Linked DNA regions of Homo sapiens. The protein of the gene in region 1 interacts with the protein of each later gene in a biochemical or structural test. Each region holds a gene or a part of one and is shown on either strand. Other genes may lie near its edges.

Region 1 (3,056 bases):
TACCCTGCAACCCCCAGGTACCCAGAACACCCCTCCCTCTTCTAGGCTCCAACTCTCCTATCCCCTGGCGTCCCAAACATTTGTTATTCCCAACCTATCTTTCCCATCTATTTTCCACTACTACTATAAGACGTGGGGCTCCAATCAAACCAGACTGCTTTCTGCTCTTCAAACATGCCTTCCCCTTTGTCTTTGCTATTCTGACCATCTGGAGTTCCTTTACCTGCCCTACCCTCTCCCTGCAGTGTACGTATTTCCTGACTCTCCCAATCAGATGTGCTTCTCCCCTTTTTTATTCCCATAGTATTAGCTGGTCTCACCTTTTCAGAAATGACATTGGCCATACTTCCTGCTGTATTGGCATCTGTCTTACCTCTGCATTTGTCTTGAGTGTTATGTGGTATCGGCTGCTGTATATTGTGAAGAAACTAGCACATCACCTCTCATGCAGGGAACTGTAGTGGGTACTTGTTGAAATTGAAGAGCTATACTGGACCTCATGGCACTTAGCTGACTTGAGCAAAGCCAGTTTTTGTTTGTTTGTTTTTGTCTATGACAGAAGCATTAAGGCACAAAGGCCAACCATCCTCTTGACTTTAGATACGCACACCAAAATTCCCAAGAGTCCAAATAATCCATTACATCTCTGGCTCTCTTACATTTTTCTAAAATTTCTAAAATCTCTTTTCAGTCAGTATCCTCTGAATGATCTAGAACTCTATTTTCCTATTTGTCCAAATCTACACCTCTCAAACTTCAGAGAATATCACCAAAGGGCATTATATAGGTTTAGGATCTGGTGTGTAGCCCGTAGTGATGCTCACTCCACCTGTCCTGTCCTGATATTTCTGGATTACAATCATGACTCCTCTATACTCTCATCTTCCGGACTAATGGATTACAGAGGTTACATAGCATAGGATGGATGACCACTTAGCAGGTGTGTTGTAGAGAAGATTTAGGTATAGGACGGGGGCTAGACCTTGCCAACCATGGTTTGGTCCATCCCGTCCTCTTGGTCTTTTCTATGATCATCTGTGGCCTTATGTTCCGTTTTTGCCTTTCCTTAACAATAACGCGGCAACATTTTCAGTGAATGATTATCAAGTACATCCTCTTTGCCAAGCATTATTCTAATTGACTTACCCGTCTTAGCTCATTTAATCTTCTCTAATAACTCTATCATTATCTTCACTTTATAGATGAGGAAACAGAGGCACAGCATGTTGAAGTCATTTGCCCAGGATTACACAGTCAGTAATTGGTGGAGCTGGGCTTCTAACCTTGACTGCTGTTTGTATTCCAGGTACATCTCCAGCTTTTGCGCAAGGGATGCAGGACGTTGCTGTTGAGGCTGGTGTGTTCCACTACTTGAATAAGCTCGGTACCGGTTAGAAACAGAGCTCTGTGTGTACTCCAGAGTATGCAGAATTAAACAAATCCTAGTAGGGACTTCTGGCAACATATAATTGAATCTTTCAATATTCCCATACTGCCCCCATACTGTTTTTTTGGTCAATATCAACATCTTGATATTGTCAAGGGTATCATCTGGTCTGAAAATTGTGTTCAAAACATCCTGAATTTCAACTCCTGTTAGATCTTATCCCTCTAAAATGTCTCAGTGGGTCACATGGGAGTTGGTAGCTCCTTAAAGTCTTCCCTGGGAAAGACATAAGCTAGAAATGATAGTCTATCTTATTTTTAATCCCTGGCTTCACTTTATTTCCAGTGGTCATTCAATAGCCACACTGATCAACTAGCTGGTTTTCTCTCTTTGGTGCATTAAATTAAAAAAAAGAAAAAAAGCAAAACTTATTGTTATTGGTTTTAGCAACCTAACAAAGTACTCCTTAACTGCAATTATGGCCTTTCTGATTCCTGCTTGTGGGCAGAAGGAATAGTTCTTCCTTTCCCTCTGTGATCATCGATTTGACTTTTTCACAAGTCATTTATCAGAAGTGTGTGTGTTTTGAGGGGGTGGGGAAGGTTTCTCTTCTGTCTTGTCACTCACAACATCCTCCTCCAATCCTGTAATGCTTTTCATTGTCAGCACATATTTATTCTGGATATCCAATAAGATGTTCATTTAAAAATAATATCTGCCGTGTTTTTTTTGTCAGCTTCATACTTTACAAGCTTTACGTTTTCGGCGTTTGCAGCAAACTCTGCATTCTTTTACCATATGGAATAGTTGCCAATGGATTTTTCTGTTGATGTTCCTCCACAACCCCTCGGTATGTTCTGATACCGCCTGCTTCCAATCACTAGTCCACATTCTGTTCCCTCCTGACAACCAAGCACATTCAGAATGCTTGATTTTTCTCTCTTGAAGATTTGATAACCACCTCGTTTAGGAAAATAGGCATTTGTTTGTCCCCAGGAGGCACCGTGGTCATTATTTTCTTCCTTTTTCAGTTCTTCCCAGTAGCAATGCCTAGCATTTTCCAGTTGTTCACTGTCTCAGGGCCCTGATCAATCCAGCACAGTAATCTCCACCAGGAGCAGATTTCTCCATTTTAGTTTTTTTTTTTTTTTTTTTTTTTGAGGCAAAGTCTGGATCTGTCACCCAGGCTGGAGTGCAGTGGTGCAGTCTCTGCTCACTGCAACCCCCACCTCCCGGGTTCAAGTGATTTTCGTGCCTCAGCCTCCCAAATATCTGGGATTACAGGTGCGTGCCACCATGCCCGGCTTATTTTTGTATTTTTAGTAGAAATGGAGTTTCACCACGTTGGCCAGGCTGGTCTCAAACTCCTGACCTCAGGTGATCTGCCTGCCTTGGCCTCCCAAAGTGCTGGAATTACAGGCATGAGCCACCATGCCCGGCCTCCCATTTTAGTTTTGATGTTCTTCTTCTATGTTGCTGTTTTAGTGCCAGCCTCCTGGTGCCATTTTACCTCCATTAAAGCTTTGCCTGATCCAGAAAGCCCATAATCTCTAAAAGATCTGGGGCTCATCTTAGCACCATGGCCCCATTTACTCATGGAGGCTCAAAGTTTTTCTCTTCTGAAATGACGTGTCCTTCTGAGAACACCTCCATGTCCCATCACACACTC
Region 2 (3,820 bases), on another chromosome or scaffold:
CAGAAAGGGAGAATGCCACGTGGGATGGAGAGAAGCAGAAAGTGAGGTGGGAGAAGTGATAGCAGGAGGGGGAAGACCAGACAACTCAAGGCCCCAAGGGCTGTGACTAGGATTCCACTTTACTCTGAGGAAAACTGGGACCCATGGAGGTTCTATGGGAGGAGGTTTCAACACTGGGCCAAGCCGGGCACGGTGGCTCAGGCCTGTAATCTCAGCACATGGGGAGACTGAGGCGGGCAGATCACTTGAGGTCAGGAGTTCGAGACCAGCCTGGCCAATATGGCTAACCACATCTCTACTAAAAATACAAAAATTAACTGGGTGTGGTGGCTCGCACCTGTAGTCCCAGCTACTTGGGAGGTTGAGGCAGGACAATCGCTTGAACCCAGGAGGAGGAGGTTGCGGTGGTGAGCTGAGATCACACCACTGCACTCCAGCCTGGGTGACAGAGTGAGACTCTGTCTCAAGAAACAAACAAACAAACAAACAAAAAACACTGGGCCAAAGGTTGGGGACCCAAGACTCGAGGATCAAATTCTGGCCTCAGCCAATGAATTGTTGTGACCAGGCCACACTCCTGCACCCGTCTGGGCCTCAGTTTCTCCACCTGCACCCCACAGAGCTCAGCTGGCTTATATACCTATGCCTTTCTCAAATGCAGGGTTGGGGACCACCCCGTATACCCCAGGCTGAGTGACCCGGCCTGGCACCCCGGTGTGGCCTACCTTGCCCTTGCGGAAGAGAGCCTTGATGTTGTCTGGCTGGTGCTCCAGCACAAGGCTGCAGGAGCGCAGGGCTGCGCGGTAGTGGTCGAGCTTCAGCTGCGAGGCCGCCAGGTTGTTCAGACACTTCACCTTCAACTGCAGGAGCTGTGCCTCCTCCTCGAACGTCATGTCCACTATTGGGAGACAGTGCCCGCCACGGCAGCCGTCACCATGCCACCAGACACCCCGGCACCCACCCCTCTGCGGAGGCTGCCTCTCTGGCCTCAGTTTCCCCAATTTTAACCCCGGACCAAGGGCCACGCTTTCCTGGGGCTCTCCTGAGGAAGCTACAAGATGGAGACTTAAGCAAGCGAGGGCCTAGCCTGTGGTACATGTGAACTGGCCCTGTCTATGGTCACCCCATCCCCATATCCACTTGCATTCTACAACACTCCACTGGTCTGGGATATACCACGAGTCTGTAACAGGCCCTAGCTTAGGGGCAGTTGGGGATCTACCCATATTCTGGGCTATTCTAGAATATTCTGAGTCTGAGGCTCTCTGGGGCTGGAAGTTTCTGGCACGGAGTGGACACCTTTGCAGGGGAGATGGTGGAGATCTGACCCAGGCGGTCACCTTTGGCGCTGGAGGTGATAGCCTTGATGGCGAGGTCGTAGGAGTTGGCGGCCAGGACGAAGTCCGCCCGCTGGTAGTGGGCGTTGCCGCACTCCCGCTTCCGGTTGGCCAGGGCCACGCGCTCCTGCCCCGTGAGCATCTCCAGGTCAGGCCCGTCCACAGCCGTCTTCAGGGTCACCTCCAGGCACAGGGCCGCGTGCGGGGGGATGTATGGGCTCCTGCTAGTTGGGTGGGAGCAGGCAGGGGCAGCACTCAGACCTGGTGACCCCTAAACCCGCTGGGCTGGCTAGGAAGGAGTGAGCTTGGCTCAAGCCCCCGATCTGTCTCCCCTCTGCCCTCCATCATTCCCTCCTCAGTAAAGTGCAGGGGAAGTGACTTGCCGCCTTGGAGCTGCGGGACTTGACGAACGAGTTCCCCTCCCTAAGCCTCGGTTTTCCTCCTTTTTATTAAGAGACAGGTTCTCACTCTGTTGCCCGGGCTGGAGTGCAGTGGTGCAATCTTGGCTCACTGCAGCCTCAAAAACGTGGGCTCAAGTGATCCTCCTGCCTGAGCCTCCTCAGTAGCTGGGACTACAGGTGTGCACCACACCCAGCTTTTTTTTTTTTTTTTTTTTTTTTTTGAGACAGTCTTGCTCTCTTGCCCAGGCTGGAGTGCAGTGGTGCAATCTCGGTTCACTGCAAGCTCCGCCTCCCGGGTTCACGCCATTTTCCTGCCTCAACCTCCAGAGTAGCTGGGACTACAGGCACCCACCACCACGCCTGGCTAATTTTTTGTATTTTTAGTAGAGACGGGGTTTCACCGTGCTAGCCAGGATGGCCTTGATCTCCTGACCTCATGATCCACCCGCCTTGGCCTCCCAAAGTGCTGGGATTACAGGCGTAAGCCACCACGCCCGGCCCACACCCAGCTAATTTTTAAATTTTTTTGTATAGAGATGCGGTCTATATTGCTTAGGCTGGTCTGGAACTCCAGGTCTCAAGCAATCCTCCTACCTCAACCTCCCAAAGTGCTGGGATTTCAGGTGTGAGCCACCTCACCCAGCCTCAGTTTCTTGTCTATAAAATGGGCAAGTAGATGGGGTGAGCCGAGGGGTACACCCACTCCACCCATCCCCCTCCTGAGACCTGCAGAGACCTAAGGGTGGCTGACTCTCACCTGCCTTGGGGGCCGTAGCAGTACTTGGAGTCAGCAGTGACCATGGCCGTCTCCCCCACGTCCATGAGTGGGACACTGAGATCCAGGGCCTGGGGTGTGTGGGGATAGCCAGCTGTCAGGCAGACTCAGACCCAGCAAGGCACGCCCCTCGCCCCTGCCCTGTCCCGCCCCAGCCCGCACCTGGATGACGTCACAGTCACCCAGAGTGAACACCAGCTCCGGCTCCTCCTGCACCCGTGTGCCATTCTCCAGCGACGTCTGCAGATGTACGGTGACCACCTGGCCCTTGACCGGGCGGCTCGAACCTGGCGGCCCTGGGACCAGCGTCTTCTTCCTCAACAGCCCGTTCCCTGCCAGGGTCCAGGGACATGCAGCCTGTCACCTGGCAGCTCAAACAGGCACCCGCTCCCCTGAGCCCCCACTCCTACCCTCAGCTCTGCCCACTAGCTGTCCAGAGGGGGCTGGCCCAACACTGGGGCACAAACCAAACTTCCAATGGCCACTCTGCCACCAGAGTGGGGAACCCCACGTGCAGGACACTGGGCAGGATGGGACAGACTTCAGGGTGACAGTGCTGGTGCTAGAGACCAGCTCAGTGAACAATGGTTGGTCTGGTTTTTTTGTTTTTTTGTTTTTTTTTTTTAAGAAAACTGAGACTTGCCGAGTTTCCATCTATTTGAGAGGCCAATGTGGGAGAATCACAAGTTCAGCCCAGCGTCTGGGCAAAATGGCAAGAACCCAGTCTCCCCACCCTCCTCAAAAAGAAAGAAAACCAAAGCTCAGAGAGGACAAACAGCCCTCAGGCTGAAATCCTTGCCCTGAGATGTTTGGGCCTCGGTTTACCCAGCCATGAAATGAGGTGCTCATGGGACCTTTGGTTAGCAGAGCCCCTGTGACACAGTGTCCCCACCACAGCACCAAGTGGGATGAATTTATAAGTTAAGCAAAGGACACACATGGTGGCTCATGCCTGTAATCCCAGAACTTTGGGAGGCTGAAATGAGAGGACTGTTTAAACCCAGGAGTTTGAGACCAGCCTGGGCAACATAGTGAGACCCCATCTCTACAAAAAATAAAAAATGACCAGGCATGGTGGCTCACACCTGTAACCCCAGCACTTTGGAAGGCTGAGGCAGGAGGATCACTTGAGGTTAGGAGTTTGAGACCAGCCTGGTCAACATGGTGAGACCCTGTCTCCACTAAAAATACAAAAATTAGGGGCCAGGTGTGCTGGCTCACACCTGTAATCTCAGCACTTTAGGAGGCCAAGGCAGGTGGATCACCTGAGGTCAGGAGTTCGAGACCAGCCTGGCCAATGTGGTGAA

The links.
Region 2: the proteins of CLCN1 (region 1) and FKBP8 form a complex in vitro, tested with the Homo sapiens proteins (one study listed by BioGRID).

Annotation. Positions count from the first base shown.
Region 1 is NC_000007.14:143,347,111-143,350,166, reverse strand, and holds part of CLCN1 (chloride channel protein 1), read right to left. Parts: intron 1-3,056. UniProt on the Homo sapiens protein: Voltage-gated chloride channel involved in skeletal muscle excitability.
Region 2 is NC_000019.10:18,536,876-18,540,695, forward strand, and holds part of FKBP8 (peptidyl-prolyl cis-trans isomerase FKBP8), read right to left. Parts: intron 2,846-3,820; coding exon 2,676-2,845; intron 2,585-2,675; coding exon 2,496-2,584; intron 1,562-2,495; coding exon 1,341-1,561; intron 899-1,340; coding exon 726-898; intron 1-725. UniProt on the Homo sapiens protein: Constitutively inactive PPiase, which becomes active when bound to calmodulin and calcium. Seems to act as a chaperone for BCL2, targets it to the mitochondria and modulates its phosphorylation state.